Regions from separate parts of the Homo sapiens genome. Here regions 1, 3 and 4 are each linked to region 2. The links come from fine-mapping of genetic effects on gene expression. A gene starts in region 2. Each other region holds a variant in brackets. All regions are shown on one strand. Distances are between the middles of the regions.

Region 1 (4,163 bases), 40 kb before region 2:
ACGATCTCATTTCTTATTTGCTTTGTTTCTCGTCTGAGGCGATAATGAGATGAACAATTACTTGTCTCCAAGAAACAGACATCAGAAAAACATCCTGTTTTTTTCACAGAAATTAAGTATATCAAAGTATTTTCCTGCTCTATTTTCCCATTATCTTTGTGGTTATGAGAGTGGCCTGAATGTGGAGCATGTTGATTTCAAACTCTAATTACAGTGGTTGTTTCCGGTTTGGGGCAACTATTAATAAAATTTGCTATGAACATTTACGTATACTTTTTTTTAAAAAACGGAGTCTTGCTCTGTCGCCCAGGCTGGAGTGCAATGGCGTGATCCCGGCTCACTGCAACCTCTGCCTCTCCAGTTCAAGCCATTCTCCTGCCTCAGCCTCCCAAGTAGCTGGGACTACAGGCACCCGCCACCACGCCCAGCTGATTTTTTTGTATTTTTAGTAGAGACGGGGTTTCACCGTGTTAGCCAGGATGGTCTCAAACTACTGACCTCGTGATCGCCCGCCTTGGCCTCCCAAAGTGCTGGGATTACAGGCGTGAGCCACCGTGCCCGGCCTTACGTATACTTTTTAATGAAGCTATGTATTTTCATTTCTCTTGGGTAAATACCACGGAGGGGAATTTCTGAGTCATGGTAAATATGTGTTTAAATTTAGAAGAAACTACCCGTTTTTCAAAGTGTTTGCACCACTTTGTGCTTCTACCAGCGATGTTTGAGTGTTCCGGTTATTTTACAACCTCCCCACAATGTGTATTAATATTTTTACACATTAGTGAGCCTGTAATGGTATCTCTTTGTGTCTTTTAACATTTTTTATTATAATAACATCTATTTGCTTATAAAAGAAAGATGTACTTAGTGTATTTCAAAAACACAGAGAAGTAGAAAAAAGGAAAAAAGTAGCAATTGTCATTATTTCATAACTATAGCACTCTAGGAGGCTAAGACGGGCAGATCACCTGAGGTGAGGAGTTTGAGACCAGCTTGCCCAACATGGTGAAGCCCCGTCTCTACTAAAGACACAAAAAATTAGCCAGGCTTGGTGACGGGTGCCTGTAATCCCAGCTACTCGGGAGGCTGAGGCAGGAGAATCACTTCAACCTGGGAGGGAGAGGTTACAGTGAGCCAAGATGGCACCACCATACTCCAGCCTGGGTGACAAGAGTGAAACTCCATCTGGAAAAAAAAAAAATAGTTTATTTCCTTTTCATTATTTTGCTGTTATTTTTACATATTTATAATTCTGCATAAGCAGTCTTGATTCTTGCTGTTTATATTTTAAAGAATTCTCATTTTTGAAATTTATTCTTTCAAGAGTTTTTTATATATTATAGATATTAAATCTTTATCCATAATATATGTAACATATTTTTGAACATTTATGGTATTTCTTTCCATGCAAATTTTTTTATGTAGTCAAAGTTATCACCTCTGGGTTTTGAGTCATAGCCAGAAAGCCTTTTCCTACATCAGAATAAAGAGAAATTCACCCGTGTTTCCATCTAGCACTTGTATGCTTTCATATTATTACATTAGATCCTTTATTTGCTTGTTCTTGTGGTGGATGGTGAGACATGGGCCTAATTTTAACTTTTTCCAAATAATGATTTAGGTATGGAGCTATTCAGATTTTCTATTTCCTCCTGCATCAGTTTAAGGGATTTGCATATTTCAAGAAATTTGTCCATCTCATCTAAATGTTTTAATTTGCTCTCCGAAGTCATTTA[G/T]CTCACAAACACACACACTTTTATTGTTCTTTTAATGTCTATAAGACCTATAATGACACAATGGGAAAAGACCATACCCGAATGACTGATGCTTATGCAATAACATTAAGCAGAGGGCCTGCCACTAAGCACGTGAGTGATTACATTTTATTTTTAAATTTCATAATCTTCAGATGCCTGCAAGTGAATTGAGCAAAATTACATTTGACGACATGACTGTTGGGAATGATAGCACCATGTAGTGCTGTTGATAGAGGGAGATGATTTTTTAAAAATCATGGTGAGTTGGTTAGATGCTCCAAAGATGTTCTCCTCTTACAGCAATTACTCAGTAACTTGTTATACTTATTATTGAGATAATATGAAAATTAATAAGGTATAACCTCATTTCTTAGAATGTAAGCTCTCAGCCAGCACACGAAGGTGTATAACATCAATGATCATACTTCATCTAGACATGGTATAAGTAGTTTGATGATGAAACACAGAGGAAACAGAGGTTGCTCTCAGAGAGGTCAAGGAAGGCTATGTGATAAAGGGGCACTTAAAAATGAATAGCTTCTGGTGTTTGAAGATAAAATACAATCAGAGTAAACACCATGCAGGGAGAAAAGTCATATTCGAAAAGAAATCTTGCCTTGCATGAGTTGCGGGTGGACAGGGAGGGGTCCAGAATGGTGAGAGGTAGTAGTGGGATGTATGGCTGGAAAGGTAGGTTCACATAAGACCATTAGAGAGGGACTTGCATTCTGGAATAAAGTTTTCGGATTTGACCCTGTAGTTCATGGGAAACCAGAGAAGTAAAGAGCTATAAGTGAATTAGTTCTGACTACAATGTGACTGACAAATGGAAATGAACAAGGCTAGAGGCAGAGTGGGAAATGAAGTTCTCCCGTAGCCATGTAAGTGGCAATGCCAATCTGAGCTAGGATATTGGCGCTCCAGAAAACACAAAGATGGACGTGAGAACACAGCCGGCAGATATGAGGAAATAAGCAATAGGAATTTAACACAGTATTATAAGTTCTATTTCAAAATTTCAAAAATACTTGCCTTTGCAATGCAAACTGAAAGAGCCACAATAAAAATATCAATTTTCTTCACAGCAGGACACCTGGGCAATGTCCGGAATGAATGAGCTTCAGTGAACCATTCTAATGGCAACCCTAGTTCAGCAAAATGAACAAAGGACTGTGAAGGGTGATCGGAAGCCAGTAATTCCTGGATCCTTTCATGGAAAAGGGCCTTTGGAATTTTAAAAGTGACATATCAGGCCAGGCGCAGTGGCTCACGCCTGTAATCCCAGCACTTTGGGAGGCCGAGGCGGGCAGATCCCCTGAGGTCGGGAGTTCGAGACCAGCCTGACCACCATGGAGAAACCCTGTCCCTACTAAAAAAAAAAAAAAAAAAAAAAAAAAAAAATTAGCCATGCATGGTGGCACAAGCCTGTAATCCCAGCTATTCCAGAGGCTGAGGCAGGAGAATTGCTTGAACCTGGGAGGTGGAGGTTGCGGTGAGCCGAGATTGTGCCACTGCACTCCAGCCTGAGCAACAAGAGTGAAATTCTGTCTCAAAGAAAAGAAAACAAAAGTGACATATCAGAGCTAAAGAGCCATCAATTTAATTTAAAAATTTGAAATGGATGATGTGGATTTGTTAGAGAAGTCTCGCCGTGGTCTAGCTCGTGAATAATTTTATAGCATGGAGGTCGTTAGTATATTTTGGTAATTGTTTTTCAGCTTCATTTTTGTAGAAACCAACTATTCAAGGGCCCTCAGGCTTAAAGGGAATTAAAATAGGGTATAAGGTAAAGGTCATTACTCTGTAAAGCTATAGCTTCCATTGACTCAAATGGAAAATGTCATTCCCCTAAAGACAGTCAGAGGACTCTCATATGATATAGTGGAAGGTATATAGATTTTGGATCCAGGTGGGCCTCCTTTGACTTATTTGAGCTGTTTTTTGACCTTGAACAAAACACAGAATCTCTCAGAAATTAGGTTTCCTCCCCCATCTATTAAAAAAAAAGGGGGGAAAAGACTGGGCGTGGTGGCTCATGCCAGTAATCCTAGCACTTTAGGAGGCCAAGGCAGGGTGATTACCTGAGGTCAGGAGTTCGAGACCAGTCTGGCCAACCTGGTGAAACCCCATCTCTACTAAAAATACAAAAATTAGCCAGGCGTGATGGTGTGCACCTGTAATCCCAGCTACTCAGGAGGCTGAAGCAGGAGAATTGCTTGAATCCAGGAGGCGGATGTGCAGTGAGCCGAGATCACGCCACTGCACTCCAGCCTGGGCAACAAGAACAAAACTCTGTTTCAAAAAAAAGGGTGGTGGGGAAATGGCAAACAATGCACACAATTCTTGGTAGAATTAAATAATGTGAAACAACATCAGTCCAAGTCACATCATAAAACTATTTCATGC
Region 2 (4,163 bases):
CTCCTATGCCCCTCAATGACCCGATGACTGCCCTAGGACCCCGCAATGATCTCCACTAACATTTAGGTTCCAATGAACTTCCTAAAACCCTAATAAACCAACATATTCTCATTGTTATTCCACTGGACTTGCTATGTTCCTACAGACCAATTACTTCCCTTTCAATCACTGTTATTCCAAAGTCTTCAAAGCACCCCATTGACTCTGGATGACGATTATTCATCTTCAATGATCCCCCATTAACTCCTCTGACCGCTATTTTTTCTCCTGATATCTGCTCACCCAATGGCCACCATTAACATCTATTAATATCTTAACTGTTTGAATGCCCCAACCCCCGCTACTACCCTATCAGTGATGCCCACTGATACCTGATGACCCCTACTAACTCTCCTGGTTGCCCATTTATATTCTTGGTAATGTCCACTATTTCTCCCAATGACTGTCGTTAATATCCACTAACACCCAGATATTTAGGACTCCCCTAATCCACTATTCACTCCCACTGTGGTTCACAAACACCCCAATGACCCCACATTAACAATCATTAACACCTGGTTTTTCAATGACCCTCCATGACTGCCCTGATCCACAAGTTATTCTACTCCATGTCTACTCCCCCCTACCCCCAACAATGACCATCATTAACCTCCACTAACACCCAGCACTTCAGAGACCTTCAGTCACTCCCCTGACCACCTTCAATCTCATTGGTATCCACTCCCCTCCCTACAGTAACCATCATAATATCCACTAACACACAAGACTTTAATGACTTCCATTGCCCCTACCCATGACCATCATTAACATTCACTAAAACCCACAACTTCAACAGCCCCTACTGACACATCCATTTATTCCCATTGATTTCCATTCATCCCCCAATGACAACCATTATTATCCATGTGCAACTATGTCTCAATAATTTTCCCATAAAATCCCAATAATTGCATATTCTGTCACTGACATTCACTGACACTCCCATGTCCCCAAATATCTTTACTCCCTCCTAATAACTGCTCTTACCTGCTATTAATTCCCAAGTCCTCAACCTCCCCATCCACATTTATTCTCAGTGAGGTCCACTGATCCTTCCCAATGACTCCATTTACATCCACTAATTCCAAAGTGATCAATGGCACAGACTTCTCAGTGACTTCCATTAAATCTCAAATGAACAACTTTACACATCCACTAACATTTGGTCCCTTAAAGACTTCCCCAACAGTCTACAAGTGACTTCAATGATGTAAATACTCTGAGTGCCCATCGAACTCCACTGATTCCCCTTCCCACTTCTATTATTTAATAAATAACACCCTACTCCTCAAAAACACTAACTTCTCAACAGTCCTCCTCTGTTGAGTCTATTGACTTTCTTCAGCGCATTCTTTGATCTAAACACTCTAAATCCTCAGTGACCCTCTTTGGTCCTAACAGCCCCCTTTTTGATTCCTCAATGACCTAAACTCACACCAAACCCCCAGTGAACATCCGTTGACAGCCAATGACTTCCTCAATGATGTAAACTACACCATGTGTCCACAGTGACCTCCTCCTGACCCGGCGATGGTTTAAGCCACTTCTCTTAAGTCCCAAGACTCCCTACTGGTCACCCACTGACCCTTCCCCCGTCCAACAATGACAACCCCTAAGGATTCCTTTTAAGACCCCACTAAGTGGAGTCATACCTGTTTCCTCCAGGCCCTCGTCTTCGGGATCCGGCGGGACCGCGTGAACCCCTCCACCTTCTCTAGCTTCCTCACTGGGGAACTGCGTGTCCTCCAAGTCCTCCGCGCCCCCGGGGGCCGGGGCAGCAGTGTCTCCTCCGACCTCCATCTGCACATCCCTGAGTGGGAGGGGAATCGAGGGTGACGGGCGGTGAAAGAAACTTCTGAAAAGCCTTTATAGAGTCAGGCCCCCTTGGACACACTCCTACTGCTCATTTCCCCACGGATTTCAATAGGACGAGACATCCAAAATCATGCCCAAATACGTCCCCCCTCCAACACTTTCCGAAAAGAGGAGACTCTACTGGGCCTCAGGAAATAGAGATATACAAACACCTGTTTTAACTCCGAATCTCAATTGGCCGGATACCATTACTTCCCCGTAGCGGCGGTGGCATCACACTTCCGGGTGCGGCCCGGGAGGTGCCACACTTCCGGGTACGACCCCTCCCAGAAGACACTTCCGGTTGCGGAGCTTTATTGGCTCCTCGCGGCGTCCCTCTCCCGCCGCCTACGGGTGTCCCCTCATAGTTGAGATGGCGCGGGCCACTTCGGATCTACGTCAGGTCTGTTCGGGAGCGCAATGAGACCTCTCTGCACTCCTTTCAACGGATCTGGCTACGGCTGCTAACCCGGGAGAGCGAGGCCCACTTCGCTTACCAGTGGTTGGCGTGAGGGGGGACGCGGCTCGCTCTAGCCAATCCCGGAGTACATAGGGCGCGACCGTCTTCTTTCTGGGCCAATCGAGATGAGCCGCCTCATTTCCCCGCTGTCTACTCCCCCCGCCAAATCCTAACCAATACTGTGCGTTGTGTTGCGTTTGCACACGCCCATCCATTGATTGACGTCTCCCTCGACCCAATCGAAGACTCGAGCCTATTCCTTGTTTCACAAGAGGACTTTTGCAGCGTCAGTCCCGATGGATACCTGTGCCGGACCCACAAACGGGCTCTCCCAGAACTGAGGCAACTCCACTTTCTCTTATCCCTTAACCCTGCCAAGAAAGTCAAGGGAGGGGAGAGGCGCGAATGCTTGACGGGCAGTCGCCGCTTCTAATCAGCGTGCCGCGCCAGCAGCTCCGTACCCTGCCGGGTTCCCACGTCTACCTGCAGCTGGGGGAAGAACTCTGCCAGCCCAGGGCAGGGGCGGGCACTCACTTGGACCAGGACCTGCCCGACGCCCCCGGTCCGCCGGGCGAACGGGTCGTCACTTTCTGTGATCAGTTTGGGAAAAGGCTTGGGGGCCCTGCCACGGGCCAGTGTGGGAACCCAGGGTTCGAATTCCCGCCCCGACGCTGCTTCCGGACCGAAAGCCCCCTGAACGCCTTGCCCCAAGTGCCCTGGGCCTTGGTTTCTCCATCAGTGAAACAATGATGGGAATCGCTTGACGTGAAGTGAGTGGAGGTGCTGGCACACTTCGAGTGATTGCTAAGGGGAAGCCTTTGGTACTAGTTAGGATAATTATTTTAATTACAGTATAGTTAGGGTAATGAATTCCAAATACCAGTGTAGCATCATGTGCTTTATATACAATAGGTAATCGATAAGTAATAAATATTAAATTTATATAACAGAAACAATGGATAAATTTATGTGCATACAAAATATATTTACCTAATACATTTAGAAGTATATAATATATAATAAACATGTAAAAAAGTACAATAAAATAACATCTCATAAGCAAACTTATTTATTAATCTCGCTGTGTTACCCAGGCTGGAGTGCAATGGCAAAATGTTATTGACTCATTGCAGCCTCCGTCTCCCGGGTTCAAGCAATTCTCCTGCCTCAGCCTCTGGAGTAGCTGGGATTACAGGTGCCCGCCACCACGTCCGGCTAATTTTTGTATTTTTAGTAGACATGGGGTTTCGCCATGTTGGCCAGGCTGGTCTTGAACTCCCGACCTCAGGTGATTCACCCGCCTCAGCTTCCCAAATTGCTGGGATTACAGGAGTGAGCCATCATGCCCAGCCCAGGGCTACACACTTTAAACAACCAGATCTCGCAATAACTCCCTCAGTCACTGTCACCAAGAGGATGATGCTAAACCATTCATGAAGGATTCACCCCCAAGATCCGATCAACTCCCACCAGACCCCACCTTCAATAATGGGGATTACCATTCGACATCAGATTTCGGTGGGAACATAGATCCAAACCTTATCAGGGGAGTAGAGGAATAGTTACGCCTTCATCTAGCTTTGTCAATCTGCATTTTTACCTCAGAGGAAGCAATCAGATATGCATTTGTTTCAGGTGAGCAGAGGGATGACTTGGGGTTCGCTCCTTTGTCTCGCACCTGTGAAGATAAACTATCAATTTACGTTGTCAGGGTAAAATTCAACAGAACCGTTTTAGGGTAAAGATCTTGCAGCCCACAAGGAATCCCTAGAGGGCAAATTATGAGGGAAGTATGTAGCTTTATCTTTGT
Region 3 (4,163 bases), 52 kb before region 2:
CCATGGAAGAGTGGCATCTATCCTGCCATGTCAAGAAAAACCACCTGGGATGAAAACACTTGGTTTGAATGTGGAAGAAGGAGTGTAAGTTCATCAATCAAAATAATAGGTTGTCACCAGAAACAGGAGCACCCTTTGCCAATCCTCAAGGACACTGGAGAACAAGGTGAGCCAGAGAAAGCCAAGATTGCCCACAGATGTTTTAGGGCAAATTGGGGAGGGGAGAAAAGGTGTCCCAGCTGAGCAGTCCTAAGAGAGGTTCATGACTGGAGTTATTGGCCTCATTTCACAGAAGGAAGCTGAGTGGTACCCAGGGGGGCAAAACACTTGGCCCAAGTTCACAGAGTAGTAAAGTCACTGAGCCACCCTGAGACACAGTGCAGGTGTTTGATGGTCCTTTACCTGCAAGTGTATGGACCCCTTTTCCCCAAAAAGGGGGTTACTGATGTGATTCAGACACATCACAAATGGGTCCTAATTAGCTGATCCCACATGGGAACAGGGAGATGAGTGCAGTAAATAACCTCAAAATCAATGCTTAAAGCTTTTTATGGGGAGAGATTCCCTGTGCTCAATAGTTCAGGGAATTGGAGCTGCTTTAAAACACTTCTGGAGCAACAGAAGCCAATGTACACATTCACAGCTTTCAGTTCCCCCAAATCAATTATGCTTAAGTGATGTTAAGGGCCTGACAGAGCCACAAAAGCAAAAACAGTCTTTAGCCCCAAAATGGAAGCTGATCCTCGTGCCTTAATCTATGCCAGTGTGACTGGCCCTATTTGCAGGCCCAGGTCTGATTCTCATGGCTCTTGAGGATTTAAGTAAAATCCTTCACATAATGTAAATTAGGGTTTATGTCAATGCTATTTATTTTAATATAAGAAAAAGAAAGAAAATACCCAAATCCCTAGAATCCAGGACACAAGGCTGCCTCAGCAGTAAGAGTATTTTCCCGAAGAATGAGGGTGACATTGATGTTGGCATGAGGGGTGAAGTGCAGCCCCATTAAAAGAGCCAGATGGGTTTGGGCTACTTCCAACCCCTGATGGTGTTCATTGGTGCAAGGAAGCTAATGCAAACCATACAAGACCAGAGGCTACTACAAGAGGCTGCAGGCCGGGCAAGGTGGCTCATGCTCATAATCCCAGCACTTTTGGAGGCCTGAGACAGGCAGATCACCTTCAGCTGTTTGAGACCAGCCTGGCCAACATGGTGAATCTCCATCCCTACTAAAAATATAAAAATTAGCTGGGTGTGGTGGCACATGCCTGTAGTCCCAGCTATTTGGGAGGCTGAGGCAAGAGGATCTTGAACCCGGGAGGTGGAGGTTGCAGTGAGCCAAGATCGCACCACTACACTCCAGCCTAGGTGACAGAGCAAGACTCTCTCCGCCAAAAAAGGAGGCTACAGTGATAAACTATGGAACTACTGCAGGATTAAAAGCAGGTACTAGATTACTGGATGCTATTCGTCTAAAAAGAAACATCATCTCATGCTGGGTAAGAACACAGAGACCAATCTAGCTTCACTCTTCTTTCTTTCTTTCTAGATGGAGAAATGCAGGCAGAATTAGATTCCAAACTTTCTGGTTTCCAGACCATCAGTCTTATTTGGTTCCCCTACTCAGAGGGCAATGAAAGGCTTCTGCTTCCAAGTTTTTCTCTCCATTTAGGTGGCAAAAATGGGATACAATACCCGAAAAAAAGGCTGCCCTGTGAACAGAAGGAAAATATGGCATTGGCAGCAATAAAAATGTTGCAAAGCACATTTTAGATTTTGCAGATCATCATCTTCTTTGCTCATATGAGGATGGGTATTTTACTCACATGGCTTTATGTAAATGTAGATCTGTCAGTTGTTCATGCCAGGGGGCTTAAAATTGACAGGTGTAGCCTCTTATCAACAAAGGGAGCACCGCCCCTTATATGTGATGCTGAAACTACAGAAAGAAACACTGAACACAGTTGACGTGAGTAGAGAGAAAAAAAAAGATTTTCAAAGTGGAAAAGTCTCTTGGGAGATCACC[T/C]AGTTCAGTATGTTCCAAAGAATATTCCAGGGGATGGTGATTTGCTACTATAGCGGGAAATTTTAGTTTAATCCAAATTAAACAAGTTTCTTCACTGCAGGACTTCTCAGGGTCTTTACTATAGTATGTATTGAAGATTTCCACAAAAAAAGAACATAAGATGCAAAGTTTCCCAGACTTCCGTGTCCACTGACACCCTTTTCATATTGAGGACAATCTCATGGGCCTAATAATGTTGATCTTCTCCAAAATCAGATGAAAACACAAAACAAAACAACGTGCACGTGTATGATCATTGTAGCACTATTTACAACAGCAAAGACATGGAATCAACCCAAATGCCCATCAATGATAGACTAGATAAAGAAAATGTGGTTACACATATACCACGGAATACTATGCAGCCATAAAAAGGAATGAGATCATGTCCTTTGCAGGAACATGGATGGAGCTGGATGCTGTTATCCTCGGCAAAGTAATGCAGGTACAGAAAACCATACACTGCATGTTCTCACTTATAAGTGAAAGGTGAACCATGAGAACACATGGACACAGGGAGGGAACAACACACACTGGGGCCTGTGTGGGGGAGAGAGGCAGCGGGAGGGAGAGCATCAGGAAGAATAGCCAATGGATGCTGGGCTTAATACCTAGGTAATGGAATGGTTTGTGCAGCCAACCACCATGGAACACTTTTACCTATGTAACAAACCCACACATCCTGCTCATGTACCCTTGAACTTAAAAGCTGAAGAAAAAAAAACTAAAAAGGTCTGAAAGAAAAAGTTACTTTTCCCAGATCACAAAACTCATCAGTAACAGAACCAGGACTCAAACTCAGACCTCCAGGCTATAACCAAAGAACCAAATCCCGTTCTTCCTGCTATATCCCTAATACTGTATCTCGAATAGAGTTATCAATAAGTAGTAAAGCAGTGACTAGTAAATAATTGGCAAGTGCTTTATCTACATTATCTTATATGAACTCAGTTAAAATCCCAAGAAAATACTTTATTTAGGAGGAATAGATACATTGTTACCCATTTTACAGATAAGGAAATGGAATCTTAACACAAATAGCCATTTGACCTCAGTCAAGTGGTAGTGCCAGAAAAGAGTGAATGGGGCCCGGCGCGGTGGCTCACGCCTGTAATCCCAGCACTTTGGGAGGCCCAGGCAGATCACGAGGTCAGGAGTTTGAGACCAGCCTGGCCAATAGGGTGAAACCCCGTCTCTACTAAAAATACTAAAATTAGCTGGGCGTGGTGGCATCTGCCTGTAGTCCCAGCTACCTGGGAGGCTGAGGCAGAAGAATCGCTCGAACCCAGGAGGCTGAGGTTGCAGTGAGCCAAGATCATGCCACTGCACTCCAGCCTGGACGACAGAGCGAGACTCTATCTCAAAAAAAAAAAGAAAGAAGCAAAAAGAGTGAATGATACAGAAGACACTTTTTACTACACATACAAATGACTACCCCCAGTAATTCCTGAAAAGAGGCGGCTACAGAGATAAAGGAAGGAAAATAAAGTAACATGGCTTCCTTGTGGCTATGGCAGAGATTCCTCTATCAAACTTGAGCTGAAGACAGACCCTGCCATTCACACCCAGACCCAATAGCTTCATAACTCAGTCCGTGACCAACACAGTTTGTGCACAGACTAGAAAAGCTATGCAGGTCTTGCAACGTAACCTCATTCTGAGACTGTCTGATTAAAGCCTGAGAGGTCGCATCTTGGCCACATGGAAGGCATTAGCCCAGCCCTCCCAGGCTTCCATTGTCTCTTGAAAGTTGCTCAAGTCTCTTCTGCCATCACAGAAATCTCGTGTCTTGGAACTTCAAATTGTTTACCATCCTTGCCCTTAATTCTGTGCTGTAGTCTCTACTGTTTTTTTTTTTCTTTTTTCTTTGTTTTTGAAATGGGGTTTCACTTTGTTGCCCACGCTGGAGTGCAGTGGCACGATCATGGTTCACTGAAGCCTCGACCTCCTGGGCTCAAGCAGTTCTCCCACCTCAGCCTCCCAAGTAGCTGGAACTATAGGTGCCTGCCACCACGTTCAGCTAATTTTTGTATTTTTTATACAGGTGGGGGTTTTGCCATGTTGCCCAGGCTGGTCTCAAACTCCTGAGCTCAAGTCA
Region 4 (4,163 bases), 23 kb before region 2:
GGAGGTTGCAGTGAGCCGTGATCTCGCCATTGCACTCCAGCCTAGGCAACAAGAATGAAACTCCATCTCAAAAAAAAAAAAAAAAAGGGAATTTAAGTAACCTAACTGTGTAACCTGAAGTTACACAGCTAGTATGCAGCAGAGCTGGGATTCTAACAAACACAGTCTGGCCCTGGGTTCTGTTCTGCTAACTAGTGTGCTCTATTAGGTAGTAATATTATTATCCTCCGGGAGATTCTACTGCAGTCACTTTGGCCACTCTCTCTTCCATGCCTTGTCTAGCTTGCTACTCAGGATGTGCTATGTTTGCATCTCTTCGGGCCCCTCCTCTGACTCCTCTGTTTTTCAGTGGGTTTCTTTCTGGCTTACTTTTTTCAAGAATGTCCTGGCCGGGTGCGGTTGCTCACGCCTGTAATCCCAGCATTCTGGGAGGCCGAGGCGGGCGGATCACGAGGGCAGGAGATCGAGACCATCCTGGATAACACGGTAAAACCCCGTCTCTACTAAAAATACAGAAAAACATTAGCCGGGTGTGGTAGCGGGCACCTGTAGTCCCAGCTACTCTGGAGGCTGAGGCAGGACAATGGCGTGAACCTGGGAGCCGGAGCTTGCAGTGAGCCGAGATGGCGCCACTGCACTCCAGCCTGGGCGACAGAGCGAGACTCCGTCTCAAAAATAAATAAATAAATAAATAAAAATAATAATAATAATAAAAAGAATGTCCTTCCGCCTTTTGGCAACACTGAGCTCCCCCAGGCTCATTCACATTTGAACCTGAACTACAAGCCAAGAAGCTTGAGAATTATGGTAATTGAATGCAAGCCCTGAGAAAAGCTGTTACAGGAAGTGAGTGAAGACTTCCCAGGCAGCTGTCAATTATTTCAATGAAAGGAGAAGTAGCCCTGCCAGGAAGGTCAGTTGAGTCAGGAGAACACAGGGCAAATCAAAAGCCAAAGTCTCGCTCTGTCGCCCAGGCTGGAGTGTAGTGGCGCCATCTTGGCTCACTGCAACCTCCGCCTTCCGGGTTCAAGCAATTCTCTGCCACAGCCTCCTGAGTAGCTAGGATTCCAGACACCTGCCACCACCAAACCAAGGGGTGTCACCATCTTGGCAAGGCTGGTCTTGAACTCCTGACCTCGTGATCCACCCGCCTCAGCCTCCCAGAGTGCTGGGATTACAGGCGTGAGCCACAGCACCCAGCTGGTCACTGCGTTTTAGAGACATTAAGCAATTTGCCTGAGGTCATCCAGCTGGTGAACAGGGAAACCAGGACTCGAATCCTAGGTGCCCAGTGGTAAATCGGCAGAATATCCAGGCTGACCCCATTTGTGTGACACAGAGAGGATGACAAAGAGGATACTGAAGTTCCTTAGAGATTCCTGGAGACTGGCCTTAGCAAGTAGGTGGTGTCAGTGGGGCAGGGGACCACAGCCTGGGCCTGGAGTCAGCTCTGCCCGGATGCGAGTGGTGACTCGGGGACTAAAGCTCCCTGGGCCTCATCTGTGGACTTGGGATAATAATGGCAACAAACGTGAGACCCAACGTTTATTGAGGGCTTACTGTACAGATTCACTATCTCAATTTTCCTCATCGCTAAATTGGGAATAACAGCAAGAATAGCAGTGAGAATAATAAATGATAGATACCATTTATTGAGCATTTATGTTATAAAAATCTCTGTTCTGAGAGATATACACACCTTAGTGTTCCTCATCTGTAGCCTGGGAATAATAATAATAAATCATATGAACCACTTACTGATCACTTAATGGACAGAAGCCTCTGATCTAAGTGAGTCACACATCTCAGTTCCCATTCTCTAGGGACTGGGAATAGTGAATCATCCCAACAATATGTGAGAGCTGGCATTCACTGAATACTGACTGTGTGCCAGGTCCTCTTCTACACACATTAGATAGTGTCCAACTTGACTGGTCCTTGGCAACTCTCCAGTGTCGTCTCCCATCCCACTCTACCTCATTCCACTCTACCACGCCGGCCTTCTCCAGACGTCTCCTCAAACACAGCGAAGTGCAGCCTCACCTCCCGCCTTGGCATGAGGCATGTCTTCTGCCAGGCCCACCTTTCCCCAGACACCCACAGGGCTCACCCCCTCGCTTCTCTACCTCGCTTCTCCGCTCAGATACCACTTCCTAGGTGAGGCCGTCGCTGACCGCGCTGTTTAAAATCCAGTGCTTAGAACAGTGCCTGGTACCCAGCA[G/A]GCAATCGGCAAATGCCTGCTTAGTCAGTACATGCTCAGTCAATGGCCGCAGCCTGCTGCTGGGTGCCTTTGGATTTGGGTCCCAAATGCCGGCCTCCAGAGTGGCGGACACATTTAACAGATCTGAGGTTGCCTGGGGGATGTGACCCCAGAGAAGGACCAGTAGGGCGAAGGCCCCGAGGGGACACGTGTTTTGGAATGTTTGAGACGGGTGGAGAGGCAGCCTTGGCTAGAACCCAATTTGTGAGGGGAGCTCAGATGGGCGGGCATGTCCCAGAGCCAGCGCGAGTCTGCGGGTCTTGCAGAGACTCTGGGTTTCCTGAGACCACCGGAGACGCACAGGCCCCGAGGACCGGAATGGGTTAACACCTGCCCTCCGGCCCCTGTTGACAACATAGATGGTTTGGGAACTCGAGATGAGGCCGTGGGGCGGGGGATACTGACACCCACTTACTCTCTCTGAGTTCAGGAGCATTTACCCAGCCTCTGTACGGCGCCCGGGGCTCGACTGGTGGGAGGGGTCCGGCAGAGGCCCCGCCTCGAGATCCCAGCACGCCCCGCCCCGCTCCACGGTGTAGCACAGACTCCGCGGAGAACGCGAGCATGGTCGGAAATCATCGCCTTTATTTCTTGGCGGGTCTCGAGGGAAGGTCGGGAACGGGCGGGTCCTGCTGGCCTAGAGGGCGTCAGGGGCAGCCACCGGCGGCTCGGGATCCTCCTCGTCGCGAGCGCGGGGGAGCTCAGGTCCGGCCTGCCGGGGGCTGGGTGAGGCTGCGGACCAGGTTCCTACGCTCCTCGCGTCCGCCCGCGTCTGCCCTAGGCCTCCACCGCGGCTTCCTCTGTCCCCGGGGCCGCCCTGCTCCCCACAGACCCCACTCTCGGGGGCCGCTCCCAGGACCCCCGCCCGCTCTCTCCTGACTCGGTCCCTGCCCGCCCCGCCTCCCTTCCTCGGGCTCCCTACCTCTCCCTCGCCGGCCCCGACCTCGGGGGCGCTCCGGACCTGCTCCCCGAATATCTCCAGCTCCGCCTTCAGCCTGCGGAGAAGGGGCCGAGGAGACAGGAGGAAGAGAGCGAGAGTCCAGGGGACGAGGAGGAAGCCACCGAGACGCGGAGACCCGACGACGCCGAGGGAGGCACAGGCCGGGGAAGCGGCAGTCGGGGGCGGAGCGGGGGACCTGGGCGGGTTCCCCTCCGCCCTGCCCCTGCCCTCCTCGCCCACTCCTCCCTTCCCCTCTCACCCGTCATTCACCGCCATGGCGCCCTCGACCTCAGGCGGCGAGTGCAGCCGCCGCTCCACCTCCCGCAGCTTGGCGCGCACCAGCCTCCCTGTCGGTGGGCGGGCGTCAGGGGCAGGGCCGAGGCCCGGGCACATCCCCCTCCCCCCGCCCACCTGGCGCGGGAGGCTCACTCTCCGAGAGCAGCTGCTCCTTGCTTCTCTCCAGGGCACGGATCTCCCGGGCCAGTCGCTGCTCCAGCATCTGCGAGGACAAAGAGGAGGCCTCCCCGTTTGGCCGTCCTCTTGGCTACACGGCCCGCCCCTCCCCTTTTGTGCTTCTCGCGAAGTCTTCACCTACATTAGGTCATTCATTCATTCAACTATTTATTAACTCAATGTGCAGTTCCTGCTGTGGCTGGAGACCCACCCACCTCCCCCTAAACGCTCTCCATGTCTCCAGGCACCTCTCAAACTTGAACTCTTCCCACTCTCCTCATCCTCCATTCCCCAATCTGCGGCTCCTCAACGGTTTCAGGCACCGTCCAGCCCCAGGGCCTTCCTTCTGCACCGATACCTGCACGGCTTCTTCCCTCACTTCCTTCACCTCTGCGTTGAGATGTCACTTGCTTAGAGGCCTTCCCACTGAAGTTCCACGATCTAGCCACTAACTTTCTTGGTGCCTCCACCGTCCCCAACCAGCTTGGGACAGCAAAGACGTGGACTCTT

Alleles and levels. Positions count from the first base shown, and alleles are read on the strand shown. Sizes are in standard deviations (SD) of each study's normalised expression. Not every link is listed here.
As copies of G replace A in region 4, the expression in subcutaneous fat of the gene that starts at base 2,135 in region 2 goes up (moderate effect, 0.72 SD a copy in TwinsUK).

The links. PIP is the estimated chance that this variant, and not a neighbour inherited with it, causes the effect.
Region 1: its variant is the best candidate, but not a certain one, in a credible set for the expression of MON1B in whole blood (TOPMed, PIP 0.75).
Region 3: its variant is the best candidate, but not a certain one, in a credible set for the expression of MON1B in cerebellar hemisphere (GTEx, PIP 0.52).
Region 4: its variant is the best candidate, but not a certain one, in a credible set for the expression of MON1B in subcutaneous fat (TwinsUK, PIP 0.71).

What each region holds. Positions count from the first base shown.
Region 1 is chr16:77,229,340-77,233,502 of GRCh38, reverse strand. No RefSeq gene overlaps it. Among named protein-coding and RNA genes, the nearest start is that of SYCE1L, 32 kb to the right of the region's middle. RefSeq lists a cis regulatory region at 2,747 and an enhancer at 2,663-2,832. The variant G/T (reference allele first, on the strand shown) is at 1,737.
Region 2 is chr16:77,189,162-77,193,324 of GRCh38, reverse strand. It overlaps MON1B (MON1 vesicular trafficking associated B), which reads right to left and starts at 2,135. Exons shown (of 6, transcript NM_014940.4): 1 at 2,067-2,135; 2 at 1,692-1,849. The coding sequence starts at 1,839. LOC124903725 reads left to right here and starts at 2,759. Exons shown (of 1, transcript XM_047435021.1): 1 at 2,759-3,417. The coding sequence starts at 2,759. The coding sequence ends at 3,103. RefSeq lists enhancers at 1,984-2,033, 2,054-2,343, 1,469-2,417.
Region 3 is chr16:77,240,972-77,245,134 of GRCh38, reverse strand. No RefSeq gene overlaps it. Among named protein-coding and RNA genes, the nearest start is that of SYCE1L, 44 kb to the right of the region's middle. The variant T/C (reference allele first, on the strand shown) is at 2,027.
Region 4 is chr16:77,211,666-77,215,828 of GRCh38, reverse strand. SYCE1L (synaptonemal complex central element protein 1 like) reads right to left here. Exons shown (of 11, transcript NM_001129979.3): 8 at 3,630-3,699; 9 at 3,460-3,547; 10 at 3,183-3,255; 11 at 2,614-2,972. The coding sequence ends at 2,898. It overlaps LOC124903726 (a long non-coding RNA gene), which reads left to right and starts at 3,698. Exons shown (of 2, transcript XR_007065121.1): 1 at 3,698-3,800; 2 at 3,898-4,163. RefSeq lists silencers at 2,669-2,718, 2,749-2,838, 2,949-3,278, 3,339-3,698 and an enhancer at 2,618-3,591. The variant G/A (reference allele first, on the strand shown) is at 2,222.